2 separate regions of the Homo sapiens genome follow, and region 2 is linked to region 1. A link means that fine-mapping ties the variant in region 1 to the plasma level of a protein whose gene starts in the linked region. Region 1 holds a variant in brackets. A gene starts in the other region. All regions are shown on their forward strands. Region 1 overlaps DMBT1 (deleted in malignant brain tumors 1). Region 2 holds the start of REG1B (regenerating family member 1 beta).

The links. A credible set is the group of variants that fine-mapping cannot tell apart. PIP is the chance, under the fine-mapping model, that this variant and not a neighbour inherited with it causes the effect. The UK Biobank Pharma Proteomics Project read protein levels with antibody pairs (Olink). The fine-mapping took linkage between variants from a reference panel, not from the people measured, so its PIPs are less certain.
Region 2: REG1B starts here. The variant in region 1 is the best candidate, but not a certain one, in a credible set for the plasma level of the REG1B protein (UK Biobank, PIP 0.64).

Annotation. Positions count from the first base shown.
Region 1 is chr10:122,622,388-122,638,253 of GRCh38, forward strand. DMBT1 (deleted in malignant brain tumors 1) reads left to right here. Exons shown (of 56, transcript NM_001377530.1): 45 at 2,890-2,916; 46 at 3,546-3,578; 47 at 7,453-7,606; 48 at 7,901-8,103; 49 at 8,574-8,894; 50 at 9,468-9,488; 51 at 10,474-10,503; 52 at 10,804-10,954; 53 at 13,604-13,812; 54 at 14,741-14,925. Among named protein-coding and RNA genes, the nearest start is that of SPADH, 43 kb to the right of the region's middle. The variant T/C (reference allele first, on the strand shown) is at 8,818.
Region 2 is chr2:79,079,776-79,095,641 of GRCh38, forward strand. REG1B (regenerating family member 1 beta) reads right to left here and starts at 8,218. Exons shown (of 6, transcript NM_006507.4): 1 at 8,184-8,218; 2 at 7,774-7,883; 3 at 7,037-7,155; 4 at 6,592-6,729; 5 at 5,717-5,828; 6 at 5,248-5,508. The coding sequence starts at 7,837. The coding sequence ends at 5,441.

The sequences.
Region 1 (15,866 bases):
GAAAGGAATTCATTGTCTCAGTTATCCAGAATGTTTAGTGGTGGATCTGGAGCTTCAGGTACAGCTGGTTCCAGAAGTTCCAAGTCTTTTTTCCCCATGCTTTGCTTACATCTACTCTTTTATCTGTGTGGGCTTCACTATCAACTTGCTTTTTGCATGTGGCTGAGAGACAGCAGTGGGCAGCCCCAAGTCTATATCCCACCAGGAGAAGGAGTCAGTCTGTCCCAGTACCTCTGGCTGACAAGGCCTGGGAGGACTTTGATTGACCTGCTTGTAAACAGGTGCTTTCTTCCAAACCATCTCTATTAGCTCTGACGGCTCAGCCAGAGTTCTATACCCATCTTTGTGTTCCTTTGGGGCGACGGGAAGGATGGGGGCACTAGGCTCTACTTGAATCTTGTAGGATGCTACTTTTTAAAATAGGAATGACTGTTTCTATTAGAATAAAAAACAGGCAGGATGTTTGTGACAGAGATAGCCATCCCTCAGTTGGACCCTTCCTTTCTTTTGATACTATCTGCTCTTTGCTGGTTGACGTTACCCCTCTATCCTGAGATGGAACCTTCCCTCTCCCTGGCTGTTGCCCATGTTCATTACCATCATCTCTATCTAGTTCCAGGACTTTTTCATTATCCCCAACTGAAAGCTCTTACCCCTTAACCATTCATAATCCATTTCTCTTTCCCTCAGCCCCTGGCAACCACTAATCTGCTTTCTGCCTCTGTATACAGATTTTACTAAGAATTGTGGTCACTTTCTATGAATGGAATCATAGCCTTTTCTGTCTGGCTTCATTCACTTAACATAATGTTTTCAAGGTTCATTCATATTTTAGCATGTGTCAGAACTCCACTACTTTTAACTGCCAACTAATATTCCATTGTATGGCTACGCCATCTTTGTCTATCCATTTATCAGCTTATGGACATATGGGTTGCTTCCATCTTTTGGCTGTTGTGAATAAGTCTGCTATGAGAATTAGTGTACGGTTTTTTGTTTGCACTTGTGTTTCCAATTTTGGGAGATATATACCTAGGAGTGGGATTGCTCGGTAATAGGGTAATTATGTTTAATTTATTGTGGAAACACTGAACAGTTGCCACAGCTGCTGCACCAAATTTGCATTCCCCCAAGCAATGCCTGAGAATTCTGATTCCTCCGTATCCTCACCAACACTTGTTATGATGTCTTTTTCATCATGGCCATCCTAGTGGGTGTAAGGTGGTATTTCATGGTGTTTTGATTTGCATTTCCTTGATGACTAATGATGTTGAGCATCTTTTCATGTGTTGGTGGGCCCTTTGTATATATTCTTGGGAGAACAGGGGCTTCATTTTATAGATACTAAGCTGAAGGCCAGAGGAACTAGACTAATGTCAGTATCTTAGCCCAGGCTCACAGGACAGGGTTCAGGTACACAGAGGGATCAGGATGCCTGGCCCAGTGTTGTGTCTAGCATGTGACATTCCTTCATGGAGGCCTAACTCTGCCATTTTTTCTCCATTCTCAGGCATAGGCACTGCTAGGTATGCACAACTAAGTGTCCTCATAGTTGCTTCTGCCCACTGTCCCTGTAGCTCATGGTATTCAGTAGGTCCAGGTTTTGTTTCAGATTGAAGGCAAGCTGTGGGTTTGAAAGTGACTCAGGAATAAGCCTCGGGCCTGATGGGGTGGTCCCTGTGAGCAGAGTGAGTCAGCCAGAGGTGGAGAGGTGGACTCTCCCAAGAACCAGGTCCTAGGGCTGCACCTTGCCAGGCAGCTGGGAGCTGGTCTCGGTTGCATCCTGCTGCAGGGGCACTTGAGCCCAGTGGTCCCTGCAGATCCATGCTGATGGCTCCTGCACTTTAACCTCTGAATCTGAAGGCCTGGCTCAGCACTTGAATTGCTGGTCACTGGGGTAACTCCATCAGAGAACATGCACAGCTCAGTCCACACCCAAGGGTTCTAGAAAACAACCCTTAAGTTGATGAAGAACATCAACTTAAAATGATGAAGAACAGGCTTCCGTCAATGTCTATGCTGCTGGAGAACATTAACTGGAGACCCAGAAACCTTGGCCTTCTGGAAGAATTCTGAACTTCACTTGACCTCAGATCCTCTTCCTTTAGGAGATACAGGAGAGAGTTAATTTTCCTGTCTTTTCTAGAATCCAATTCTGGTTTGGCCCTGAGGCTGGTGAATGGAGGTGACCAGTGTCAGGGCCAGGTGGAGGTCCTGTACCAAGTCTCCTGGGGCACCGTGTATGATGACACCAATGACGCCAATGTGGTCTGCAGGCAGCTGGGCCGTGGCTGGGCCGTGGCATTCCCAGGAAATGCCTGGTTTGATCAGGGCTCAGGACCCATTGTCCTGGATGATGTGTGCTGCTCAGGGAATGAGTCCTAACTGTGGAGCTGCCCGCACAATGGCTGGCTCTCCCACAGCTGTCAGCACAGTGAAGATGCTGTGTCATCTGTTCAGATGGGCCTCCAAGACCTTGGGCCTCTATTTTAGTGTGTGGTTTTCTCCATGACAAGGCTTCTCTTTGCACTGGCCTCTTCCCAGCCTGAGCTTCTCTTCAAGATGGCCAGTTTCTCTGATACCTCAGCAAGGCAATAACCTCAGCAAATGTTGTTGGCGTCTTTGAATTTTATGGGTAGGCACTAGCTTCTTTCTTATGTAGGTTCCTATAGCAAACAAGGGTTCAATCTACTTTCAGGCTGTAAGAATGAATTCTTCCAACATCTTTTTTTGAGACTAACCGTTAAGGTTTATATCTACTATTCCACTCTCCTGGATGACTCTTGGGGAGCATTTCTAAGTGATGAGATGGGGACAGGCACTCAGCATTTCTCTCGCTCATCATCCTGGGCACTGGGACTGACTCATGTTTTCTTCTTTTCCTTGCAGCCACCCAAATAAATTCTACTACGACAGGTGAGTCTGCTACACCCCAGTCCAGCAATATTTCTCTTGGGAATTCCACCCTCTCTTGTTTCCAGAAGTAGGAGGAGTAGGGTAGACTCCCCCTGGGGGGGTAATTTCTCTCTGAGGACTCTGATCTTTGTTAGGGTGACGAGCTGAGTTCCCACTGCCATCACTCTCATGTCTGGTTCACCGTGGAGGGCCCCTGTGGCCTCCTGCTATTGCCTGCTGATAGTGCTAAGTGCTGGCAGAGATGCTGCTGTGGAAGGAGGCTTTGGTCCTCCCATTATTTCAGATGAAAATAACTGTCTAAATTAACCCATGGAAAATTAGGACCTTCATTTTAGAAACATAGCCAAGTAATACTTCTGCACGTATTTGTCAAATAAAGAATACTTTCACTTTGAGGGAGCCATCCGCAAAGCGTTTTTGTGCCACAGTGAAAATATCCTGGGCCAAATATGTTGGGAGGTGCTACATACTCTAGACCTTACTGGCCATGAACAGTGTAAACTGGAATGGTCAAGGCTCTGAGAAGTCCTGTACTAAGGAAAAGGATTTAACTTTGTCAGTCAAACAAATTACTATGGAATGGAAAAATTATCTACTAAAATCCTAAACAGCTTCATTTTTTTTTCTAGATTGGTGGCATCCAACAACTACAACCACTGCAAGTAGGTATCACATTTTCTACCTGAACCATAGGTCATACATTTCTTATCCCCAAGCTTGGCTATCCATGAGCGAATGCTCTGCCCCACCCCAGCCTTCCTCAATCTGCACATAGCCCTGGCCTGTCCCACTATACCCTTCACCTCTTCATTTGAATCAATGAGATAAGTATTCTTAAAATAATAGACTTAAAGGCTTTTATTTTGGGGGGTATCTCCAAAGCTTTAGGAGGAAGAAGGGAGACAAATAGTAAATGGATAATTTTACTACAAATTATGCTTTTCCATGTCATTTTTATTTCACCATATGGCTATGTTTCAATAGATTTTCATTGCTTTTAAAAAATAATAGGGATACTTTTCTGTGTTATTAAATCTTTTCTCACAATCATTTTAAGTCCCTGTATTGTATTCTATTATACAGATATGCCATGAATTATTTGACAAATCATCAGATGCTAGATATTTGTTTGTATTTCTTCATTACTGTAAATGATTTTGTGATGAAGAATATTTTTATAGATAATTTTTTTGCATACCTCACTAATTTTTCCTTTAGGATATAAATGGGTTTACTGGACCAAAGTCAATGTCATTGTAGTGCCTGGTACATAGAATGTACTTCATGCATATTAACTTTTACTGTGTTAGGTATTTTAAGATCTTGCTGTGTGTATGGTCAAACTACCATCAAGAATGGTTGTAAAATTATGGAATGATGTAAGAGACAAACTGATCTTCTTCCTCAGAGCTCACAATATTATTTTGTACACAACAAACTAGAAAATTACAGTTGTGACAACTGTTTCCAAGGAAAAGTTCAGTGTGCAAAGAGGAAGTATTAGTAGAGATCTTCCTTGATTGGGGAGTTAGGGGAAGTTCCTTATGGAAGTGACATTTAAGCTGGGAGTTAATAGAGGAGCAGGTTCATTTGCTGAAGTGTCTTCTAACCAGAAGGGATGCTTTGAAGGCCCTAGGGTGGGAAGGAGCTTGGCTCTTTGAAGGAGGGTGGGGTGCGGGCAAGGAGGGACTGCAGGAAATCTGTCGGGTGAGGCCAGATCATTCAGGGCCTTGTGGGTGGGTTAAGACTCCCATCTTTATCCTAAAGGTAGGGAGGCTGCAGAAAGATTTTAATCTTGAGAATTAGCTAATTGGAAATATATTTGCAAAAGATCATGTTTATCTTTTCTGCCAAACTGCATTTCCTGAAGGCAGGGGCCATGTCTGCCTTTTTCATAATGTATCCTTATTATCTAGCATTGTGTCTGCCTTTCAAGAACTGTTTATTGAAGGAATAAATGAGTGAATGAATGAATGGATAAATTAATGAATAAATACATAATTACTGTTGGCATTTTGGCATACATTCCATACACTGTATACACACACACAAACACACACACACACACAGTATGGCATGCTTTATATCCCATTGTATAACCCATCATTTTCATTTAAGTGTATATAATACTTTTTTCATGACCTTAAAATTAGCATTTTTATAACATTGAAATTATTTGTATAGAAGAAGGTTTAATGACTATATGATTTTCCACTGTATAGATATATCATCATTTAGTTAAACGGTTACTAATTGTGGGGCAAAAACATTGTTTCCAATTATATTTTATAATGTTAAGTGACTATATACAATAGCATATTTTATAACCATTTATATTTAATGATTAGAAATATGTAACTCGTATCCTTGTCTCTGAAAGTTTGACTTTATCCTTAATTATTTCCCAGTGTAGAAATAGAAAGGGAGGGCAGGCCACATGATCTTCAAGAAACACTGTCTTCCCATCAAATGGGAGAACGTATTTCTATCTCATAAGGGACTTGTATCTAGGATATATAAGTGACTCTTGTAGTCAATGATAAAAAGTCAAATAACCCAACTGAACAATGAGCAAAAGACCTGAAAGATATTTCTCTACAGAAGATTCACAGATAGCAGAGAAGGCATTGGAAAGATGCTCAATGTCATTAGCCGTCAGGGTCATGCAAATGAAACACCCAGTAGGTGGGCTGTAGTCAAAAAGCCAGATAATAGCAAGTGTTGATGAGGATGTGGAGAAATTGGAAACCTTATGCACGGCTGCAGGGAATGTAAAATGGTACAGCCACTTTGAGAAGCAGTTTGGTGGCTCCTCGAAAGGTTAGACCTGGAGTCACCATATGACCCAGCAGTTGTATTCCTAGGTATATACCCAGGAGAAATGAAAACATATGTCCATACAGAAACTTGTATGTGAATGTTCAGGACAGCTTTATTCATAGTAGCCAAATGTGAATGCAATGCAAATGTCCATCATGGTGAATCGAGAAACAAATATGATATGTCCATGCAGTGGAGTATTATTTGGCAATAAAAATGAATTTAATAGTGGCCGGGCGCGGTGGCTCATACCTGTAATCCCAGCATTTTGGGAGGCCAAGATGGGCGGATTGGCTGAGGTCAGGACTTCGAGACCAGCCTGGACAACGTGGTGAAACCCTGTCTCTACTAAAAATACAAAAATTAGCTGGGCATAGTGGTGGGCGGCTGTAATCCCAGCTACTTGGGAAGCTGGGGCAGGAGAATCGCTTGAACCCGGGAAGCGGAGGTTGCAGTAAGCTGAGATCGTGCCACTGCACTCCAGCCTGGGTGACAAGAGCGAAACTCCATCTCAAAACAAAACAAAAGAAAAAAAAGAATTTAATATTGATTTATGCTACAACATGATGAACTTTGAAAACACATTGAGAAGTCAGTCAAAAAAACTACCATATTGTACAATTTGTTTTATATGAAATGTCCACAATAGGCAAATCTATAGAGACAGAAAAGTAGATCAGTGGGTGCCAGGAATGGAGGGTGTTGAGAAGAAATGGGGAGTGATTGCTAATGAGTACAGGGTTTCTTTTTGGGGTGATGAAAATAATCTAAAATTGACTGTGGTGATTTCAGAGCTCTCAGTATGCTAAAAACCATGGACTTATCCCCTTAGAAAAAGTAAACAAAGAGTTATGAAAAAGAAAAAAAAAGACGTTTTAATTTCTATCACTGAGTGTGCACATGTTTTTAAAAAGTTTTTATTACTATAAACCAACCAACAAAATGTTTGACCACTTAATATTTATCCTTTTCTGATAAATAACAATAGCTAATATTGCTGGGTGCTTATGTGCCTGGCACTCTCTAAGAGTTTATATAGACATAGAAACCTATCTTATGTTTATGTATAAATGTTCATATATACATATCTTATTTAATACCCTCATCAGACAGATGAGGCAGATGCCATTACCACTCTCATTTTTCTGATGAGGAAACTGAGGCAGAGAGGTTAAGTAACTGGCTCCAGATCATGGAGCTGATAGAGGCAGAGCCAAGATGCAAACCCAGGCTTCTTGTTGCAGAAACCCTGCTCCTAACCCAACGTTGTGCTACTTGTGAATTGGCAGAGTCCTGTGCTCATGGAAGACGCTAGGGAACACACTGTGTTATGGAGTGCTCTCCACGGGTCAGCACTGTGTTCAGCCAGGACTATCCCACGTCCCTGTCTGTAGCTGATTGAACAATGATAGCTGTCACTTTGTTGCTTTCTTGGCATTTTTGCTAGAGGTGACACATGCTCCCTCTGAAGCTTGGGTCACCTCCTCGCAGAGGGTTGCTGTCCAGGCCTAACAGGGAAAGCAGGGACTTGAATCAAAGCTTCTAATGTTGGGCCACCTAGAACCAGGCCCAAGAGAGGGGACTTGTTTACAGGGAAAGTTAAGTCTTGTTATAAAGTGCAGAAGATGAAACTGGATGATACTTACACAGATGATTCCTTGTCACAAAATACCTGAAGACCTGGTACAATGGAGATGTCCCCTCTCTCCTCTCTAGGACCCTCTTCAAATTGTGGTGGCTTCTTATTCTATGCCAGTGGGACATTCTCCAGCCCATCCTACCCTGCATACTACCCCAACAATGCTAAGTGTGTTTGGGAAATAGAAGTGAATTCTGGTTATCGCATAAACCTGGGCTTCAGTAATCTGAAGTAAGTAATGCCTGGTCATCTGGTGAGGGGTGAGTTCCTCTGCAGCACACCCACTGGTTTAGACTGTGTCCTGGGCTGGGATGCTTTTCACTCTCATGTGCCATGGACAAGCTTTTGGTGGCTTTGATTCCTACCATAAAGCATCAGGGAACACTGATGTCCTTTGACTTAATTGAGGAAGAGCTAGAAGAAAAACCTGTATTCAATGGCATCCCTCGTAAAGTGCAAACTATTTATAAAATGGAGGGGCAATAGGAATTTCAATGTTGACTTGAATACATTTTCTCCATACAGATTGGAGGCACACCATAACTGCAGTTTTGATTATGTTGAAATCTTTGATGGATCATTGAATAGCAGTCTCCTGCTGGGGAAAATCTGTAATGATACCAGGCAAATATTTACATCTTCTTACAACCGAATGACCATTCACTTTCGAAGTGACATCAGTTTCCAAAACACTGGCTTTTTGGCTTGGTATAACTCCTTCCCAAGCGGTAAGTGCACACTAGACCATGCCTATGAGGCTTGGTGGATTTACCCAGCTGCCTCTTTGGGGGCACCATGGTTCCCCAAGGAAATCAAAGAAGGGCCTCAGCGATGCACGGCCCATTCTCTTTCTCTTGGCACTGACTGTGTGGGCAGGCCCTTGGGAAGGCAGCAAAGGGTGCAGACTGGGGGTTCCACCTGGCCTTGGGTCTGCCACCAACTCTCCAGGGGACCTGGTGACTCTCCTTCAGAGCCACCCCTCTCCGTCTGGAGGTGAGGGGATCTGAGCTTGGCGATGTCTAGAGCCCCTTTCAGCTCTGCATGGAGCGGTCCAGTACCTCCACCCCAGCTTTTCCACATTTCTATTTGGCGACTTTAGAGGTGGGAAAAGGCCTGTGGGATGCTTGGCCTTTGAGGTTTGTTGTGGGACATTTGTTGTGGGACATGGCCATGATCTCTCAGTTAATGTGTCTTTCAGATGCCACCTTGAGGTTGGTCAATTTAAATTCATCCTATGGTCTATGTGCCGGGCGTGTAGAAATTTACCATGGTGGCACCTGGGGGACAGTTTGTGATGACTCCTGGACCATTCAGGAAGCTGAGGTGGTCTGCAGACAGCTAGGGTGTGGACGTGCAGTTTCAGCCCTTGGAAATGCATATTTTGGCTCTGGCTCTGGCCCCATCACCCTGGACGATGTAGAGTGCTCAGGGACGGAATCCAC[T/C]CTCTGGCAGTGCCGGAACCGAGGCTGGTTCTCCCACAACTGTAATCATCGTGAAGATGCTGGTGTCATCTGCTCAGGTATGGCCCAATGCCATGGAAGGCCCATTTCACCTGTAACTTGCTATAAAGCAAGAGCTTAAGGCCAGTGGCTGATGGTGTCTGTGGCCCAGGCAGGAGCTGGTCATTGTGTCCTCGTGGCCTGCGCACTCCAGAAGAGCATGCAGGGGGCTGCTTTATCTTTGGCCAGTTTCTGGACCCAGGGCCATTATGCTGAACACTCATCTGACTAAAGGACCTCCAGCAATGATTTTACTTCTTTATGCTTCAGTTTCCTTGACTGTTGAGTCGGGGTGGCTATGATAGTACTTGCTACTGGTGACAATTGGGATGGTTTTAGAACAATCATGGTCAAGGAGAGAGTGATGGGTGTTATGACCTCAGCTGTAATCCTGATGACCACAAGTATGACGGGACTTAGGGAGCATCTGGGGAAGCTGGGAAGGCTTCTCAATAGCAATTGCTGGGTGGACCTGGGGACCCTCGCCGAGGGGGGTCAGGTTATGGGCCATGTAAGTGTATCTCTGTCTCATTCCGGCCCCTCCTCCAAGCCACATGTCTGTGACCTATGCTTTTTTTCTATTCCTTTTTCAGGAAACCATCTATCGACACCTGGTAAGTCCCTCCGATTTCCATTCCACTTCCCTGGTCTCCAGGTCTCTCCATTACTGCTGCCTAGACTGTGCAGGGCATGTTGCTCACTCTCCAAGGAGTTCATCTGTGGTACCATCCTCTACAGCCCCTGTCCCCTCCCCTGCCGGCCACCAGGATAGTGTGCCCCTCTCTGTGCTTCAGTGGCCTGACCCACCTAAGATTAGGATCTCCAGTCAGTCCCGAGGTGAGGCCCGCCACCTGTCAGATTTGACTGTCCTCACAGACACCAGACCCTGACCAGTGTTGGCCAAATGGGGCCCACTGCATCGCAGAGCTCCTCCCTGCCTGCCCCTGAGCTGCTCTGAGTGTTCCCAGCATGGCCCTGGCACCTCTCCAACACCCCCCACTGCCCCGCCCCCTGCTTGCTTTGTCATCCCCTCCTGGCCTCCCATAGCAGCAGCTTCAGGCCTGTGCCCTCCCATCCATTCTCCACTGTGCAGCCCCTTCAAGAGATTCCTCAGGGTCTTCTGGTGATGACCCCGCTCCTCAGCACAGCATGACTGCCAGGGCTCCCCATGATCTGCTCCCTATGCTTGGTGCCCTCTCCCCATCCTCTGCCTGCTCCATCTACACGGAGGTTCCCAAATCTATTCCACCCAGGTGCAGTTGCACCTGCTGTTCCTCTGCCTGGGACACCCCGTTTCTACCTCTTTGCCTGCCCCCTAATTACTGCCCTTTTTTCCCCACTCCATCTGGGGCAGGGGCCAGACTTCCAGGCTCCTCTCCTTCCCCAGGCTTTGGTCAATCTCATCCTTTTCCCAGTGTGCTGGGATTCGCTCTCCTCCAGACCTCCCCAAAGGCAAGTGAGCTCCCCAAGGGCAAGGCCTGTGTCCAGCTCCTCCCTGTGGACTCAGGCTTGGCACAGCATCTGCACAGCTCATGAGCAGTCGACAGCTGTGTCAGGGATGCCAGAAAACTGATCCTGATCTTTTCTTTTTGTCAACAGCTCCTTTTCTCAACATCACCCGTCCAAACAGTAAGTTCTGAGCTCCCTGACAAGTCTGTGGCAGAGTGGCCTGGAAATTCCCCTTCCCATTTCCTCAGTGACAATGGGGCTGGGGAGGAGATGGCTTCCCCCAAAGTGGTCTCCCTGCAAGAGTGCCCTGCCAGCCCTCAGTGGACGGTCCAGATCTAGGCCACCTCTTGCTCTTACTTGGTTTCTGTCTTGGGAATTATTTTATAAAATTTTAAAGTAATTTAAATTTAAAGTAGTCCGCAGGTAGACTGTGCAGTGTGCTCTGGGGGTCACCGACATTCCCACTTTTTGTCCTGACAGCAGATTATTCCTGCGGAGGCTTCCTATCCCAACCATCAGGGGACTTTTCCAGCCCATTCTATCCCGGGAACTATCCAAACAATGCCAAGTGTGTGTGGGACATTGAGGTGCAAAACAACTACCGTGTGACTGTGATCTTCAGAGATGTCCAGTAAGTGTGCGCCCAGAAGAATGCCTTGGGGCCCCACAGACCTTTCAAGAGGGAATAAATGGTGCTTAAGTGTGCGCCCAGAAGAATGCCTTGGGGCCCCACAGACCTTTCAAGAGGGAATAAATGGTGCTTAGAAAGCCAGGAGAGAAGTTTGCTGAGAGACATTTTTGACCTAGCCCAGAGGCATCCCGTGGAGAGTTGGGGAGGGGGCACGAGAGCCTTGGAGTGGACAAAAGCTCTGGTTTCAAGTCCTAGGTCTTTCACCAATTTGCTGTGTGACCACAGGAAGTCACTCAACTTTCCTGAGCCTCAGTCAAAAGAGGGGAATAAAATACCTGCTTTCCTCACCTCACTGTTTACTGGGAAGGTCACGAGAAACAGAGAGGAGAGAGAGGGAGAGAGATGTGAAAATATTTACAAAATGTTGTCCAGTGGAAAAGATGGTTGTTAAGTAGTAATGATAGACTTAGGGGCAATAATAGCACTAATAATCCTATTAACAACCACACTGGCCAGGTATGCTGCCTCAGGGTTGTAATCCCAACACTTTGGGAGGCCGAGGCAGGAGGATCACCTGAATGCAGGAGTTCAAGACCAGCCTGAGCAATATAGGGAGACCCCCCATCTCTACAAAAAAGTACAAAAATTAGCTGGGTGTGGTGGCCTGCACCTGTAGTCCCAGCTACTAAGGAGGCTGAGGTGGGAGAATCGCTAGAGCCCTGGGAGTTGAAGGTTGTGGTGAACTATGATAGCGCCAGTGCACTCCAGCTTGTGGAACAAAACGAGACCCTGTCTCAGGAAAACAAAACAAAACAAAAAGAACAATTGTATCTGTTTTGTGGAACCCTTTTTCTCCACCCATTCCTTTCTTCATGTGAGTTCCCCAGGGGTCGGGCAGAGATGGAGGAATTGCTGCTCCAGAGGGTAGGGTATCTGCTCTGCATCCAATCATAAGTAGAAATCATCGTTTTAAGCAGAGAGGACATTACTAAAAGCACTTTTCTTTCTTTCTTTCTTTCTTTCTTTCTTTCTTTCTTTCTTTCTTTCTTTCTTTCTTTCTTTTCTTTCTTTCTCTCTCTCTCTCTCTCTTCTCTCTCTCTCTCTCTCTCTCTCTCTCTCTCTCTCTCTCTCTCTCTCTCTTTCTCTCTTTTTCTTTCTTTCTTTTTTTTTCCGGACATGGAGTCTCGCTCTGTCACCCAGGCTGGAATGTAGTGGCACGGTCTCGGCTCACTGCAACCTCTGCCTCCCGGGTTCAAGCGATTCTCCTGCCTCAGCCTTTCAAGTAGCTGGGCTTACAGGCACACGCCACAATGCCTGGCTAATTTTTGTATTTTTATTAGAGACGGGGTTTCACCATATTGGTCAGGCTGGTCTTCAACTCCTGGCCTCAGGTTATCCTCCCACCTCGGCCTCCCAAAGTGCTGGGATTACAGGTGTGAGCCACCATGCCTGATGTCAAAAGTACATTAATATATGATTTATCCAAGGAGGCGGGTGGCCCAGCTAACTGTGAAGAGGCACCAGTGTTTGCTAGTGTCCTGAACAAGGGGCTACACTAATTTCTTCTCTAACAGCCACTGTTGAACAAAATAGTTTTCCCTGTTGATTTCTGTTTGCAGTGGGCTTTGGAGTCTCTGCTTTAGTGATTCATTTGGGATTTTGCAAAAGATACATCATTTTATTCTCTTTGTCATTACAATACAAAGATTGCACTTAAAGCTGATGCAGTCCTATGGGAAAAGGTTGACCATGACTGGTTCTTTAACCAGCATCTTGATAGCAATGACCATCACCATTTGTGACATTTTACAAAGCCCTTTTCTGTATGTTGTTTTATTTGAGCTTCACCATAGCCCTCTTCAGTGTGCATGGATCAGATTACTTTGCCTTTGTAAATAGGAAAAGCTTTAGAGAGATTATTTGACTTGCCCAGTATTTATTTATTCAATTATTTATTTCTCTCACTATGAATTCATGCATATTGATTTTATTCTGTGGGGGCACTAGGGACTTTTCGATGGAAGAAAAATGGTCTAAATCAGGATGCGAGCCCTTCCTTTCCTGATGTAAAGGGCTGACAGGTGAGGGGCTGTAGATTTCATATGTGTGATTGCAAAGGGCAGGACTAAGACCCAGGCATGGAGGTTGAGGGAAGATGAGACTCTCTTGATTTAAGGATACCTATGACTTTCTTTTGTTTCAATTTTTATTTTTCTTTTTATTTTTTGAGACAGGGCCTCACTCTGTCGCCCAAACTGGAGTGCAGTGGCACGATCTCGGCTCACTGCAACCTCTGCCTCCTTGGTTCAAGTGATTTTCCTGCCTCAGCCTCCTGAGTAGCCTCCCTCACCCTACAGGCTTGTGCCACCACGCCCGGCTAATTTTTGGATTTTTAGTAGAGACAGGGTTTCACCACGTTGGCCAGGCTGGTCTCGAACTTATGACCTCAGATGATCCACCTGCCTTGGTCTCCCAAAGTGCTGGGATTATAAGTGTGAGCTACTGCGCCCAGCCAAGGAGACCTATGACTTTCATCGATGAACTTTGTCAGAGTTTCTGGCACAGAGGTGTGACCCCACCCTGAGATCTGACCCCCTGCGTCAAATTCTGGGAGGAAATGAAGCCAAATGGTGTGTCCTCTCTCTGCAGGCTTGAAGGTGGCTGCAACTATGATTATATTGAAGTTTTCGATGGCCCCTACCGCAGTTCCCCTCTCATTGCTCGAGTTTGTGATGGGGCCAGAGGCTCCTTCACTTCTTCCTCCAACTTCATGTCCATTCGCTTCATCAGTGACCACAGCATCACAAGGAGAGGGTTCCGGGCTGAGTACTACTCCAGTCCCTCCAATGACAGCACCAGTAAGTCCCCTTGTGGAAATGCTCTGTTGGGACTGGGGACATCCTGAGAGCATCTGTGGCTCAACTGTCCTGTTGTTGTGAAATAAGAAATGAAGGAACCCTTTCAGGTCACCAGGGCTTGATTTTCAGCTGAAAGGGACCAGGAGCAGTGGGACTTGGGACTCTGGCTGCCCAGAAATAAAGTCAGGGCTAGAACTGGCTGATGGGTGATGATTGGTCTTACTGTGGTCAGCAGAGACTAAGTAGAGGGTCCCAGATGATGCTCTTCGTGGAGAGTGATGAGTCAGTGCCAAAGGCAGAGGTGACCTCTTGGCTTGAAACCTTGTGACCTTCTCAGAGTGTGGGACACTGTGGCCATGGCCTGAGACCTAACACATTTGGTTTCTATCTGAAGATGGACTGAGCTGGGTGGCTGGAAGTGGCTGAGATAAGGTCACTCAGACACTTCCAGCAGAGCCTGTATGGCCATGATTTGAGTTGCTGTATGGACTGATATGTAGAATGGCCAAGGGCCAGGCAAGGTGACATCCAGGGTCTCTTATGCAGTCAGGATTAAAGACTGACTTGCTTCATGGCTAAAAGACCTTGTTTCATGACATTCCCACAATTTGATCATACAGTTACTTTACTTTATAGATAAATGGTAACTTGGCCAAACATACCACTTATTTAAAAATCCTGCCTCCAATTCTCCATCAGAGAAATCCTGAGTCCACGTGCTCTCCTTGGGCTTTCATAAGGATGGGGCTGACTTGACCCTCGGGTCCTTGGGGGATTGCAGTGAGGTCTATGCCCACATCCTAAGTGCTGACCCTCCCTGTCAGCCACCCTGGTCTGTGCACTTTTTAAGTGGAAACAGCCTCTGGCCCCGTAGGACTTGTGGAGTCTGGGGCAGTGACTGAGTGCCTTATCTGTCCTTGTCTATCAGACCTGCTCTGTCTGCCAAATCACATGCAAGCCAGTGTGAGCAGGAGCTATCTCCAATCCTTGGGCTTTTCTGCCAGTGACCTTGTCATTTCCACCTGGAATGGATACTACGAGTGTCGGCCCCAGATAACGCCGAACCTGGTGATATTCACAATTCCCTACTCAGGCTGCGGCACCTTCAAGCAGGTAAGCCTGGGGCTTCCCATTCCATTTCCCAGTGCACAAGCTTTCTTAGAGCGGTATGTCCTGTGCTTCTTGAATTCTGGGGATGAAGAAATTATGATTTTGGGATAATCAGGACATAATTGGAATAAAGGAAGATAAAAAACCTTTGGTGCTATGATATGGCTGCAGCTACTTCCAAATAGGAAGAAGGAAGCTGAGCAGAAAGAGTATCTCCAGCTGTGTCCAGCAGAGAGGGCTTCTGGCAGACCGCCACTCCCATCAGCAATAACAACAGCAGCTCCTGGAGCAGCTCCAGATTTTGCAGGGCCTGAAGCTTATACAGTTAGGGTTGGGGGTGAGAGGCAGGTGTTGAGATGGGCAGGGGCCTCATTAAGTCAAAGAATGCAATATCTATGAACTTTTATAAACTTTGCAAAAACGTATGGCTGTGCAAACACATTGCTAGGCCTTGGAGGAGGCCTGCACATTGCAGTAGGCAGGGAAGAGGGGGCCCAAAAGCTTCAGCTTCATTAGCTCCATAGTCAGCTGGCCTCTGCAGCTACCATTTGTTGAGCTATCACCATCTAAGATGGCCCCCTGCATCCAATTTTGGGTGAAAGTGAAGCCAATATGGTGTGTCCCTTCTCTACAGGCTTGAAGGTGGCTGCAACTATGATTATACTGAAGTTTTCAACAGCCCCTACCACCGATTTCTGTGGTTTGCCTGGGACTTTGCAGATTTTAGCATAGAAAGTCCCACGTTCCAGGAAACCCCTCACTCCCAGGCAAATGAGGACGGTTAGTCACCCTACAAGTGGCAGATGCTGTGATTGGTCCTTGTCATACTCCCCCAGTGAAGGCCTGGCCTTAATTGTGTTGGGTTCTGGCTTGCTGTGAGTTTGGTCAGTGGAAGTCAGTCCACTGAAGGTGACCATTGTTCCTATGCCAAGTGAGCAGCCTGG
Region 2 (15,866 bases), not on the chromosome of region 1:
AACACTATGTTGAATAGGAGTGGTGAGAGAGGGCATCCTTGTCTTGTGCTGGTTTTCAAAAGGAATGCTTCCAGTTTTGCTCATTCAGCATGATATTGGCTGTGGGTTTGTCATAAATAGCTCTTACTATTTTGAGATGTAGTTCATCAATACCTAGTTTATTGAGTGCTTTTAGCATTAAGTGGTGCTGAATTTTATCAAAGGCTTTTTCTGCATCCATTGAGATAGTCATGTGGTTTTTGTCATTGATTCTGTTTATGTGTTGGATTACATTTATTGATCTGTGTATATTGAACCAAGCTTGCATCCCAGGGATGAAGCTGACTTGATCATGGTGGATAAGCTTTTTGATGTGCTGTTGGATTCAGTTTGCCAGTATTTTATTGAAGATTTTTGCATCGATGTTCATTAGGGATATTGGCCTGAAATTTTCTTCATTTTGTTGTGTCTCTGCCAGGTTTTGGTATCAGGATGAGGCTGGACTCATAAAATGAGTTAGAGAGTAGCCTCTCTTTTTCTATTGTTTGGAATAATTTCAGAAGGAATGGTATCAGCTCCTCTTTATACCTCTGGTAGAATTCAGCTATGAATCCATCTGGTCCTGGGATTTTTTTTGGTTGGTAGGCTATTAATTACTGCCTCAATTTCAGAATTTGTTATTGGTCTATTCAGGGATTTGACTTCTTTTTGGTTTAGTCTTGGAAGGGTGTATATGTCCAGGAATTTATCCATTTCTTCTAGATTTTCTAGTTTATTTGTGTGGAGGTGTTTGTAATATTCTCTGATGGTAGTTTGTATTTCTGTGGGATCAGTGGTGATCTCCTCTTTATCATTTTTTATTGTGTCTATTTGATTCTTCTCTCTTTTCTTCTTTACTAGTCTGGCTAGAGGTCTATCGATTTTGTTAATCTTTTCAAAAAAACCAGCTGGATTCATTGATTTTTTGAAGGGATTTTTGTGTCTCTATCTCCTTCAGTTCTGCTCTGATCTCAGTTATTTCTTGTCTTCTGCTAGCTTTTGAATTTGTTTGCTCGTGCTTCTCTAGTGCTTTTAATTGTGATGCTAGGGTGTCAATTTTAGATCTTTCTCGCTTTCTCCTGTTGGCATTTAGTGCTGTAAATTTTTCTGTAAACATTGCTTTAGCTGTGTCCCAGAGATTCTGATACATTGTGTCTTTCTTCTCATTGGTTTCAAAGAACTTATTTATTTCTGCCTTAGTTTCATTATATACCCAGTAGTCATTCAGGATCAGGTTGTTCAGTTTCCATGCAGTTGTGCAGTTTTGAGTGAGTTTCTTAATCATGAGTTCTAATTTGATTGCACTGTGGTCTGAGAGGCTCTTATGATTTCCATTCTTTTGCATTTGCTGAGCAGTGTTTTCCTTCCAATTATGTGGTCAATTTTAGAATAAGTGTGATGTGGTGCTGAGAAGAATGTATATTCTGTTGATTTGGGGTGGAGAGTTCTCTAGATGTCTATTAGGTCCACTTGGTCCAGAGCTGAGTTCAAGTCCTGAATATCCTTGTTAATATTCTGTCTCGTTGATCTGTCTGATATTGACAGTGGGGTGTTGAAATCTCCCACTATTATTGTGTGGGAGTCTAAGTCTCTTTGTAGGTCTCTAAGAACTTGCTCAATGAATCTGGGTGCTCCTGTATTGGGTGCATATATATTTAGGATAGTTAGCTCTTCTTGGCGCATTGATCCCTTTACCATTATGTAATGCTCTTCTTTGTCTTTTTTTATCTTTGTTGGTTTAGAGTCTGTTTTATCAGAGATGAGAATTGCAACCCCTGCTTTTTTTTTTTTATTTTGGGCTTTCCATTTGCTTGGTAAGTATTCCTCCATCCCTTCATTTTGAGCCTGTGTGTGTCTTTGCACATGAGATGGGTCTCCTGAATACAGCACACAGATGGGTCTTGACTCTATCCAGTTTGCCAGTCTGTGTCTTTTAATTGGGGCATTTAGCCCATTTTCATTTAAAGCTAACATTGTTATGTGTGAATTTGATCCAGTCATTATGATGCTAGCTGGTTATTTTGCCCATTAGTTGATGTGGTTTCTTCATAGTGTCGATTGTCTTTACATTTTGGTATGTTTTCGCAGTGGCTGGTACCAGTTTTCCTTTTCATATTTAGTGCTTCCTTCAGGAGCTCTTGTAAGGCAGGCCTGGTGGTGACAAAATCCCTCAGCATTTGCTTGTCTGTAAAGGACTTTATTTCTCCTTTGCTTATGAAGCTTAGTTTGACTGGATATGAAATTCTGGGTTGAAAATTCTTTTCTTTAAGAAAGTTGCATACTGGCCCCCACTGTCTTCTGGCTCACAGGATTTCTGCAGAGAGATCCTCTGTTAGTCTGATTGGTGTCCCTTTGTGGGTAACCTGGCCTTTCTTTCTGGCTGCCCTTAACATTTTTTCCTTCATTTCAACCTTGATGAATCCAACAATTATGTGTCTTGGGGCTGCTTTTCTCAAGGAGTATCTTTGCCGTCTTCTCTGTATTTCCTGAATTTGAATGTTGGCCTCTCTTACTAGGCTGGGGCAGTTCTCCTGGATAATATCCTGAAGTATGTTTTCCAATTTGGATCCATTCTCCCTGTCACTTTCAGGTACACCAATCAAACGTAGGTTTGGTCTTTTCACATAGTCCCATATTTCTTGGGGGCTTTGTTCTTTCCTTTTCATTCTTTGTTCTCTAATCTTGTCTTCACTCTTGACTTCATTAAGTTGATCTTCAATCTCTGATATCCTTTCTTCTGCTTGATTGATTCAGCTATTGATACTTGCGTACGCTTCATGAAGTTCTCGTGCTGTGTTTTTCAGCTCCATCAGATCATTTATGTTCTTCTCTAACTAGTTATTCTAGTTACCAGTTCCTGTAACCTTTTATCAAGATTCTTAGCTTTCTTGCATTGGGTTAGAACATGCTCTTTCAGCTCAGAGGGGTTTGTTATTACCCACCTTCTGAAGCCTACTTCTGTCAATTCATCAAACTCATTGTCTATCCAGTTTTGTTTCCTTGCTGATGAGGAGTTGTGATCCTTTGGAGGAGAAGAGGCTTTCTGGTTTTTGGAATTTTCATCCTTTTTGCGCTTGTTTTTTTCTCATCTTCATGGATTTATCTATCTTTGGTCTTTAATGTTGGTGACCTTCGGATGGTGATTTTCCTGGGTGTCCTTTTAGTTGATATTGATGCTATTGCTTTCTGTTTGTTAGTTTTCCTTCTAAGAGTCAGGCCCCTCTTCTGCAGGTCTGCTGGAGTTTGTTGGAGGTCCACTCCGGACCCTGTTTGCCTGTGTCTCACCAGCGGAGGCTGCAGAACAGCAAATATTGCTGCCTGCTTCTTCCTCTGGAATCTTTGTCCCAGAGAGGCACTGGCCAGATGCCAGCTGGAGCTCTCCTGTATGAGGTGTCTGTCAACTCCTGCTGGGAGGTATCTCCCAGTCATCAGGCACTGGAGTAAGGGACCCACTTGAGAAGGCAATCTGTCCTTTAGCAGAGCTTGCGTGCTGTGCGAGGAGACCCGCTGCTCTCTTCAGAGCCAGCAGACAGGAAAGGTTAAGTCTGCTGAAGCTTGGCCCACAGCTGCCCCTTCCCCCAGGTGCTCTGTCCCAGGGAGATGGGAGTTTATCTATAAGCCCCTGACTGAGGCTGCTGCCTTTCTTTCAGAGATGTCCTCCCCAGAGAGGAGGAATCCGGAGGGGCAGTCTGGTTATAGCGGCTTTGTCACACTGCAGTGGGTTCCACCTGTTTCAGGTATTTTGAGACATCTTCCTGAAGAATTAACTACTTTATTATTATAAAATACTCCTTTTCTTCTCAAGTAACATTTTTGCTTTAAAGTCAAATATGTCTGATATTAGTATCATTGCAGACAAAACCAGTCCCCCAAAAGATGGAGTCTTTCCCTATTTGGTGTCACAAAGCCAATACATGAAACAGAAAGTGAGTGTCAAGCACTGCAGGATTTATTTGATGGCCATGGAATTGAGAAGCAGGAACATGACTCACAAATTGGCTTCTCTGCTAGTGAGGGGTAAAGTGGTTAAAATATAGGGTTTCTCCAATGAAAGGACTGGGCATTAAAAACAAAGGGAGGAATATTCATGTCTTTTCTGGAAATAGGTTGTGAACTTCCTAGGAACCAGAGTGTGCTTCCTTTTTGTACCTTTATTGCTTCTTCTGGCCATTGTCATGGTGATTGTCAGCTGTCATTGTGCTGGTAGGAGTGTCATTTAGCATGGAAATGAGATTATAATGAACCAGATGTCTTTCTGAGGTCCTTTGATGGTGATCTTGATTCTAACCAGTATCAGCTGGACTAGTTATAAAGGAAACTTTTTACCACAGGCATTCTGTTTCTTAAAGATAAGCAGAGTTCAGACAGGGTAGAAATTCAGCAATCTCATATAGGCATTACACTGGGTAACAGTACAGAAACCAGTGTTCTTATGGTTTCTGTTTGCAAGATATGTCTATTTCCTTCCTTTTATTTTCAAGCTATTTGTGTCTTAATTTAACTCATGTCTCTCATACATAGCATACAGTTGAATCTTGTTTTCATTGTTGTTACTTTAATCCAGGATGACAATTTGTTTCCTTTGTTATCAAATCACATTTAACTCTATTATTGATATGATTGATGTTATGGGCTGAACTGTGTCCCTGCACAATTAATTTGTGAAAGTCCTAAGAGTAATATTTCAGAATTTAACTTTATTGAGAGTTAGGATATTTAAAGAGATGATTAAGTATGCCTGTATATTTAATTTACATAATTGATCATTCACTTATTCATTCATCCAAGGAGTAGCATTTAACAAACTTTGCAGGCTGGCCTCCAAAAATGTACCACTAATGCACTCAGGACCGCAGACCTGACAATTCTCCTTAAGTTATCATTTCAGTCATGACTTCAAATTGCATAACCAAGAACAGATGTGTTCTCCTCAGACCCCAACTATGCGAATTCTTCTGGAATATTAAATACTCCAGTCAGACTGGATCAACAATTTAATTATTTGTGTAATTCACACTAGGTTCATGCTAACATGTGTTGTGGATGAAATCTTAATCTTTTTATCTTGTCATAAACAAGGCCACCACATGTTCATAAGCCTGACATACATAAAATGTGAGTGGGGTTTTAACAAGTGGATGGGCCATGGCAAGCTCTGGAGTGTGACAATCATTCCCACCCCAACCACCCAAGCATGGGCTGTAGAAAGAGCAAATGCAGAAGACAGAACACTGGATAAAAATAAGTTTGTTTTTATTTTTCAGGGCTCTAGAGACTGAGACAGGTGAAGGTACTGAAGATCAGCGATGCAAACTCATTAGGGAGGAGATGGTCTGAACTGAGTTGGAGACATAGTCTAGTTTAATTTTTGACTTCATAGTAATTGCAGGACCAGTTCTAGACATCCATTTTTCAGCTTCCTCTAGTTTTTGAACTTGCAAACAAAGGAGAACTTCTTCTCACAAGATTCATCCTTCCATTTCTTGAATCCTATGGTACAATGAGAAGTGTCAGACATAGAGGATCAGAAGGAGTGTAGCCCCTCCTCAACCTAGGACTCAGAACAAAAAACTAGAGGAAATACTTCTTTATTTTCCAGATAAGGAGCTTACCTTTCCTCTATCCCAGTCCCCATGTTCATCCCCAGAGATAAGTGGGAAGGAAATGGCAACAGGTGGATAGATTGTCTGCCTCTCACCTGAGCATGAAGTCAGGCTTGCACAGTAGCCAGCATTAGCACTGCTCGGGGATCCAGTGTCCCAGGACTTGTAGGAGACCAGGGACCCACTACTCCAGTGCCAGCGGCGGTTCTAGATGGAGAAGGGCCAGAACAGGGGCCATGGTCACTCAAAAATCAATAGAATAACCAGGCCTGTGTGCACACTCAGAAACAGGCCAAGTTATAGCAGAAAGAATAAACATTGTTGTCACCATGAATATCATATCATTTCCTCTGCTTTTGCTCTAAGCTTCTCCTTCTCTAGAATGTCCGAATTCCTCCTCCTCTTCCAGCAAATAATAAGTGTTCAGAATTTGATACAGAGACCCATAAAAGCCCATTAAAGAGAGTGGTTTCTGATTTTTTTCCTGAATCTCAGAACTCTCATATCCAGCATAACATTGGCTGTAGAGTAGTCGTTGATATATTATTTAGTTTATAGTGTTAAACTAAATAATATACTGTACAGTTTTATACACTTGTATAAAATGTATAACAAATGCCAGCAGTAGATTCTCCTCCACTACTCATTTTCTATATAGTCTACAGAGGGACCTCTTCCAAGACAGACAATAGCAAAATAGGGAAAAAGTTGTACATAAAGATGCATTTCTAGAAGTAGACACAATGAGTGGGTGCATGAATTCCCAGAGCCCAGAAAATTCAGCCTTCAGCTCATGTCTCTAACTACCTACACTGAACTTCACAACTCATACATTATAGGATCTATAAAGAGGTTGCTTTTATTTAAACAAACAAAAAGATAAAAGTTGGTGATTGCGGTGCCAGACCTTAAACGTCCCTCTTACCTCTCAAAAATGTTTATAAGGAGATAGAGGTGGCTGCAGACTGACCTTTTTTGGGTCATGGAGGCCAATCCAGACATTGCTGTCATCAGTGCTACTCTCCTTAATCAGTGAGGCCACGAAGGCACCCTCCGCCTGGGTGAGCACAGACACCAGGTTGCCTGAATTCATGTTCTGGCAATAGAGCTGTTGGAGAAGAAAATGGAGCACTCAGTGGAGAAGGAAGGTGTGAGGGATATACTGAGACCTTCCAGAGGATGTAACAGAAAAAGGACAGCACAGAAATGTCCCTGATGATGCTGTCACTGACCACCAGCATCTCTGTGCTGGGAATGTGTCAAATGATGGGATAAAGTAGATTGGGAAGTTTGGGACCAGTGGTGGAATAGGGAAGGGATCAATCTTATCTCATTGCAGCCACAGAACACACTGCAAATTAGCAGCTGCCTCTACCTTCATAAGCCTCCCTTCCCCTGCTGCTCTCCTCACTCACATCTGCATCAACCCAGGTCTCAGGGTCTTCATTAAAGTAGTAGCAGTAGGAGCGATAGGCATTGGTGCCTTCTGGGCAGCTGATTCGGGGATTAGGCAGCTCTGTCTGGGACTCCTGGCCTGGGGAAAAAAAAAAGGAGATAATTAAGAAAGAATCGCAGGGCAAGGAAAAGGCTGGAAGGTGAATTAGGGGCTTCTTGGTGTCCTTTATAAGAACATATGGATACAGTGAATACTGGGGCGATTGCTCACTTCTGCCCTCCTGCATCCTATCTCTTTTCTCTCTAGTTTCCTCTGCTCAAGACAAGAGCTCACAATGAATAGGCTAAATAAATGAGTCCTCGTTTTCCTTTAATTCTGAGGCTGAGGCTTCTGCCTTTAAAGACCCAGGCTTCCTCCTTTCTCAAGTTTCTCTCGGTTTCCCTGCACACGTTTGCCTTAGCTCTCCATCCTAGCAATGACTACATAAAAACATCCCCCAAACTGCCATCGCATATAGATTCAATCAGATAAACTCAACCACAATGGTCACCTATAAGTGGTCCTATTAAATTCTGTCTCAAACCCATGAATGAGGTGAGGGTGTTTTTGAATGGGATAAAATCAGCCATAATGATCACTGAACAACATAAAAAAACCCTGATGTTGACTCTGCTTTTTTTCAAGTGAACCTTATACATGAGGATGGAGGGAAGAATTCAGAGTTGGGGTTGTGGGAAGTGTGGGGGAAAATCTCACCTTGGCTCAGAGACAGGAACATCAGGGAGGAGATCAGCATGAAGAACGAGTTGGTCTGAGCCATGCTTAGCGGCAGTGAATCTCTTGCTTAAGGAGCAAATCAGCAATCTCTGTAGGAGAACACAGGGAAGAGGGTTTGAAGAAGAGAGCAGAGCACCTGTTATCTTTCTAACATCCTCTCCTCTCTGAATTCCTGTGAGCCGAAAGGTCCACTGAGATAGCTACACTCCCAGATATTTCTCTTTTGGTTTGGGGATAACAGAGGCCAAATTACCCGAAATCAGCTTTGGTCTTGCTTAAGTTTCATTACTACTGGGATCTTTTATTCAGAAAATCACCCTGTATCTACCTCAAAATGAAAAGAGAAAATCCCACGTTAGACATGCTCTTCTCCTGTAATGCCCCTTTACCTGTTGGTAAGTGCCTTGTCCACTTGAGGTGGCTTGTCAGGTCAGACAGAGTAGGAGCTTTATATCAGGGTCTGAGAGAGAACTACATGATATAAACAATGGGTGGAGCAAGGAGTAAGGATCAGAAGGCCTACAGAGGGCACTGACAGTAAGAGATTCTGGCATCAGGAATAGCTTATTCCTGGCACACATTAGGAGTGGTCACAAATGACATCAACTTACCACAAACAGGTTGGCAAACTGTCCAAGTTGATGTTGAGCTTTGCTCTTCCTCTGCAGCATCCAGGTGTCCAGTTCCCATGGCCTTTAGCAGTCCTAGAAAGAGCAGAAGAGTAGATTTCTTTGTGCTAGGTAAATGTGGGATGATCCTTTCTTTGGTTTAGGCATGGGTAGGGGTAGGGGAAGAGTCAACTGAGTCCAAATGATTAAGCCCAATTAGCTGGTGGCTTTAAGTCATTTCTCCATTCCCTTTCAGGTTCAGGAACCTCTCAAGACCTACTTCAGAAGGCAAGGTGTATTAGTCCTTTTCATACTGCTATAAAGATAATACCAGAGACTGGGTAACTTAAAAAGGAAAGAGGTTTAATTGACTCATAGTTTAATTGACTCACAGACTTTCCTGAGGATGGGGAGGCCTCAGGAAACTTACAATCATGGAGACGAAGGGGAAGCAAAGCATGTCTTACATGGTGGCAGGTGAGCAAGAGAGAGTGGAGAGGGAAGAGCCCTTTATAAAACCATCAGATCTTGTGAGAATGCACTCACTATCAAGAGAACAGCATGGGGGAAACTACTCCCGTGATCCAATCACCTCCCACTAGGTTCCTCAATCCACACATGGGGATTATGAGGATTACAATTTGAGATGAGATTTGGGTGGGGACACAGAGCCACACCACATCACAAGGTTTAGTAGTTACGTAAATTTAAGCCAGCGTTTCCAGCAAGGTTTCAGCATAAGTAGCTAGCATGATACAGATGTTCTCAAAGTCCAAGCAGGTGGGAACTGCAGGGAGCTGATGCCTAAGTAAGCTCAAAGTAATGGAATATGAAGTTGTTGGTTTGAAGTCAATTGTCTGTTGTTGTGAAGTTACAGATAGTGATGTGAAATTAAAAGCTTACTGAAATTCCCATTAAATACCCATTCAGAATCAGGGAACAAGAGCAAATCTGGAATTTAAAATTCAGTTGAAAAACTAACCAAAATGTTCACAGAAATAAGGATGGCTATATCAATTGGGATAAATGACAAAATAATATATTTTGAAATACTAACAGGAGTTAAATTAAATAAACTAAATATATTTATATAAACATGAGCTCATTTCAAAAGCATATATAAACAAAATGAATTTTAAAAGTTGCAAAAATTTACAAACTAATAATATTTATATGTGCTTTAAAAAAGCTAATTATTTATATTTTTTTATCTATTCACATGTAGTTTAAAGTAAAATAAATCCGTAATAAAACACTATACAAAAAATTTTCATACTCATTAGAAATGCAAAATGTTTGTTTCTCAGTTCTGCAAGGAAAAGTCAGCATTCAGACAAAAAGTTCTCTCAGCGAGGCAATTTTTAATTTCTGCAGAAAGGATGCCCCTCACAGATGGAACAATGGCAAGGGCATACACAGAATGAAGAGACACCAGAATATTTATTCCTTACGCATGAGGTCCCTATTGCTGTGTCCTGTCTCCATTGGCTGGAGCCAGACCTCACAATCTAAATTAAAACCTGATTGGCTAATAATTTAAAACTTTTTAAAATAGGTACAAAAATAATAATATTTCCAAATAAGGAAGGGGCACAGGCTGTGAACTAGGACATACCTATGAGCACGTCCAACACAAATATCTTGGTTAAGGTACAAGGACATGGAATGTACTACGTGCCTGTGACTGTTCAACAGCTATATAAGATAGGGCTTAACAAAGAGTTATTAGCGTAAAGCGAGGGGGCTTGAAGGAAGTTCGTCTTTAAAATAAACTATTATTTCTAACACTTATGATTTATTCTTTAACAAGAAGGGAAACTTTGAACAGGGATCTTTTTACCGTTTACATTACTGTTTTCCTGGAGAATATATAATTTTGTCCCTTTATAATAATCATTTTAAACATAGATGACAGAGGTTAATACTGTTTAGTCTAACAGGTTCAAAAGTGTTTGTCAAACTACTCTAATTTATTTCAGCATTTTCTAAAAATAATTTTCTTTAAAGCTTACAACCAGAGAAAGATTTGAGTTTTTTTTTCTGTAAGAATTTCAATCATATTATTCAGAGTTAGAAAGGGATGAAGAAAAGAGAAATCTAGTATGCTTGTTACCATAAGTTTATCTTGCCAAAATCAAACGAGCAATTATTAGTAGTAGTAGTAGTATTATCATTATTTTTGAGACAGGGTCTCTCTTTGTCACCTAGGCTAGAGTGCAATGGCTCAAACAAGGCTCACATCAGTCTTGAGCCCCTGGGCTCAACTGTTCTCCCGCCTCAGCCTCCTGAGTAGCTGGGAGTATAGGCGCACACCTCCACGCCAGGCTAATTTTTGTATTTTCAGTAGAGACAGTGTTTTACTATGTTGCCCAAGCTGGTCTCAAACTCCTGGGCTCAAGCCATCTGCCTGCCTCAGCCTCCCAAAGTGCTGGTATTATGGGCAGGAGCCACTCTGTTGGGCCAATTTTTAAAAATTAATACAAAAAAATTATTTGTGGTAATTTTTTAAATGAGAGTTTTTCTTTACATCAAGAAGACTTCAACTAGACAATGACTTTTCAGGTACAAAAGATCTAATACTTTCAAATATATAATAAAACACATTGTGGCTAGCACGATATGAAAGCATTTTAAAACAAATAACAGTTGACGCAACTCTCATAAAATGTTTATTGCCCCAATAGCTGTATGCCCGTTTAGATAACTAACCGTTATTGCTCACATAGGTTACTGACCAAATTCCACAGGCCAGGTAGTAAAATTGAGGACATTTACTGGCAGCCACTTTGGTTCCAAAATGATGCCTTTGTCAAGGAAGCCATATTTCCCAATCCTTTAAGATTTATCTCCTTGTCCTCAGGATTCTGAAGGTCCTGTCCCCTGAACTAGTTTTACAAAGTTCTAAGAAGCTGATTTTAGGCCTTTCCTATCTATTTCTTCTGTTAGTCTTCACATAGGTGGAAAGGGGTAAACTGGATAACTAGTGTTAGTATATCCCCAAATGGGGGCAATTTCTTGATACGCCTCAATAAAGCTTAGAGAGTTTCAAGACTATGGCTTATTTTTAGCGCTATTGGCCATCTTCTATCTGCTGTTCCCTGTTTTCCACCTTTTAACAGATTTTAGACTTATTATGGAGACAGAATCTCTCTTTTGTTTAAAACTTTTGGCAGGCATGTGAATAACAGCCTGTCTGCAAACTTCAGACTGGAAAGGAAAGGAGCTGAAGGAGTACCATATGCCCCAAGAATTTTCCATGGTCCGCTGTATTGTGCAGATGTAAAGAAACTTCCTTATAAATTAGCCTCTTCTGCTTCACAGGAAAGCTTCAGTTTATTTAACACAAATTTTCATCATGTGCTCTCTATGCCAGGCACTATTCTAAATGCTTAACAAATAGGCACCCACTTAATCCACATGACAACTTTGTAATATGGGTACTAGGAGGAACCATATATCACATATGAAGAAACTGAAGGTAAGAGCAGAGCTAAGCAACTTCCCCAAGATCAAACAGTTACTCTACATTGAAGCTAGATTCAAAGGCAAGAAGTTTTGCTTCGCATTCATTTTCTTAGCTCAATGAAACCTGCTAGTTTCCTTCTCTTTATTTCTTTCCACATTCAACCAGTCTAGCTCTCTGAGGCCTAATTTCAGTATAGAACCACCCATTGATCATGGCCATGGCCAGAGGCCCCACAAGAAGAACTTGAAAAAAAAATACATTTAAGATACTAAGCACCCAGTCCTTACCCTGCAAGTTAATTTGTCCTTTACACACGCTAGCATCACAATCCTCTGTGTGTGTGTGTACGTGTTTTTAAGGAAATGGGAATTGTTCTTTAGAGTCCTCGTTGTAAGGTTTTTGTATCGGTTCAAACCCCGAGAGCGTGCCAACAGACAACAGGAGATGGTGTGTAGCAACATGCTGTTTTAATGAGCACCTGGGTGCAGGCGGGCTGAGGCCTAAAATGGCTTCAGCCCCAAGTGAGGAAGGGGCAAAGGTTTTATAGTCTCCTGTAAACAAGAAGTGTCCTAGTCTGACATAACTGCTACGTTGTACCCAGATGGCCTTTTTCTGGATCTTCAGGGGTACGTGTCTTCCAGCTGGCTCTCTTCCTGCTTCTGCTATCTTGCTGGTGCACGCTGCTGGTGCAAATAGCCTTGCACCCTTGGGACTGGGCCTGAGAAGGGAGGAGTTATTCATTTCCTTAAGCTTTCAGGCCCTGGAGAGAATCTTACATTCCTGTCTATTTGGTTATAGAAAAGGGAAAAGGGATAACTACTTCAGGCGTGACATAGGGGTGGTATGGGCACCTTGGAAAAAGAAAAATTTAATTTTTGGTGTATTCTTAAGAGACGGGTTAGTATCTATAGTGTCATTGTAGCAGGAGCATCATCTGGATTGTCTGGCAGTTAACTGTAGTTTCAACAAGAGTTTTAATGGCTTTTATTATCAGTGGGATAACACAGGAAGAAACAGGAGGAGTCCAATGATGAAGATTACTGTCCTTACCAGCATTTTAAATCATCCTAAAGAACCACCCTCCTAGAAGGTTTGTTGGGTCCCATCCCTTCCAGCTTTGGACTGGTACATGAGCTACTTTTCTTATGTTTGAAGAGGTTTCTAGAACCGCTTTTCCATTATTGTCTATGTTAAGACAGCAATTAGAGATATTAAACTTACCACAGACTCCACCCTCTTCTGCTAATAAGTAGTCTAGTGCTAGCTAGCCTGTTTTGATAAATTGCCACGTGCATTTGGTTTTGTTGTTGCATGAGCATTTCCAGGGCTGAAGTGGTTTGGTTAGTGATTATCTCTAGAACAGCCTGTAGTCTAATTATTCTATTTAGCATATATATAGGAGTGCGATAACCTCAGGAACCATCCTCAGCCTAAGTGGCAGGACAGTTATACTCCATGACCTGTTGTGGAGGCCATTCATCCCCTTGCCATCTTTGGCTTCCTCCTATCTTCAAGGATCATTTTTCTTTGTTTAGGTTATTGTATACAGTGACTCCGAGGGTGTTGCCCACTGTTAATGTTTTGGAGGAAGGAGTATTCTTGGGGGTGAGCTTGACGCTGGTACGATGGACCCAGTGGGGGAGTCTTTGGACTCTCACTACAGTTGGCGTGCTGAGTATCACAGTGTAGGGGCCTGTCCACTTTGGTTGCAGCTTTTGGGTGGGGGTCAGGTTGGCAGATAAACATGTCTGTGCTTGCAATGCAGTTATGTTGAGAGGACGAGGAGGTGTCTACAGGAGAGGCATGGCCTCATTTGCTGCTTCACGAATGAAACACCGTGTCTGGATTAAGGAGGGGAGGTAATTCCTGATGGCTCAAAGTCTGGTAAGGGTAGAGGCCCTAAGACAAAAGTTTGGCCACACATGATTTCAAAGAGACTATAAAAAGAGGGTGCTTTTGGTGTCGTGCAGAGTCTCATGAGGGCAAAAGGGAGATTTTTTTTGTTCACGACTGGTAGGTTTCTAGAGCCAGCTTGGTGAGTTGGGCTTTAAGGACAGAGTTAATTTTTTCAACTTTGCCTGAAGATTGAGGCCTGTAGGGTGTGTGGAGGGCCCATTTTATTTCTAAGGATGTAGAGATGCCTTGGGTAATTTGGCTGATGAAGGCGGGCCCGTTATCAGACTGGATGGATGTTGGGAGTCCGAAACAGGGAATTGCATGCATGATGAGAGTTAGTGTGAGGATATTTGCACCTTCTGAAGTTGTTGGGAATGCTTCTATCTACCCGGAGAAAGTACAGACAAAGACTAGAAGACAGAGGAGCCGTTTATCCGGCGGGATGTGAATGAAGTCTACTTGCCAATCTTGCCTAGGTATCTGGCCCCAGTCTTGGTGAGTAGGAAAAGGCGGTGGCCAGAGGGAGCCCTGAGGTGACACTAAGTGGCAGATAGAACAGGTTTGGGTAATTTCTCAAACACGGCTGGAAAGGTGAGGACAAGTGAGAATGGGACAGAGAAGTTGCAAGAGAGGTTTGTAACCAACATGGAAAGAGTTGTGGAGGATTTGGAGGTGAGGAAGACTTTGAGAGTGAGGAAGAACGAAGCGCCCTTCCTTGACATATGATGCTCCTTGCTTTTGAAGGTTTTGGGCTCAGAAGTCCTCCTTTTCTTCTGAGGAGTAAAGAGGAGAGAACAAGGACAGGGACAGAAACCGGCCTTGCACAGGTTGTAGGGCTACTTGTTTGGCTACCTGATCTGCTAAAGCATTTCCCACCGATATAGGATTGTCTGGGGTTTGGTGGCCCCTGCAATGAATGATGGCAACTTTCTGTGCGAGCCGGGCAGCTTGAAGGAGCTTGCTGATGGGGGAGTCATTTATGACAGCGATATTTTTGGCAGTTAGGAAACCCCGTTCTTTCCAGATGGACAAGTGTGAGTATACTATGTGGAAAGCATAATGAGAATTTGAATATATGTTGATCTGTTGTCTGGTTGCTAGAGTGAGAGCTCGAGTGAGGGCGATGAGTTCAGCTTTTTGGGAGGTGATGCCTAGGAGGAGTGGATTGGCTTCAATAGTGTGTGTGGGGGTGACACTATAGCATAGCCAGCATGCCGGCGTCCTTGATGTAGGAAGGAGCTGCCATCTACAAACCAAGTAAAGGAGGCATCTGGAAGATATTGGTATGTTAGATTTGGAAAAGGTATAAGAAAGGTTTGAATAGTGTTCAAACAGAAGTGTGTAGGGTCTTGGGTGGTTGTAGCTTCAGGTAAGAGCGTGGCCGGGTTTAGACGGGAGCTGGTTAGCATGGTGATTTGGGGGCTTTCTATGAATAGAGCATACAGTTGGAGGAGCTGTGGGGCAGAGATGAGACTTAGTACACTGTGGTGAGCTAGCATGTCTTTGATGTTATGGGTTGAATAAACTGTTAGGTTGGCATGGAGAGATAGTTTTAGGTTTTTAAGGGTGAGGGCAGCAGCTGCCATCAATGCTCGGAGGCAGGCAGGCCATCTGAGAACTGTGGCTTCAAGCTGTTTAGAGAGGTAGGCAACAACCTGGAGGGTGGGTCCCTTAGACTGGGTTAGAACACCCAGTGTAACTTCACACTGTTTGTCGGTATAGAGGGAGAAAGGTTTGGTGAGGTCTGGGAGAGTGAGGACGGGGGCTGAGATGAGAGCCTTCTGGAGTAGATGGAAAGGTTGAGTAATAGGCTGTGCAGGTTTTAAAGGCTCATGGAGAGGGCCTTTAGCAGCTTGGTATAACAGTTTGGCAAGTACAGCCAAGGAGGGAACCCAGAGTCTAAAATATCCTGCTTGTCCCTAGAAAAGAGAGAATTTCTTGCTTAGTTTGCAGAGGTGGGAAGGACAGGAGGAGGGAAATGCGGTCGGTTGTGAGCCCTTGGGTACACAGGGTAAGAGCTAGGCCTAGATAGATGACTGAGGGGGTGCATATTTGTGCTTTTTTAGGGGAGACTTAATGCCCCCGTTCTGCCAGGTTTAAAA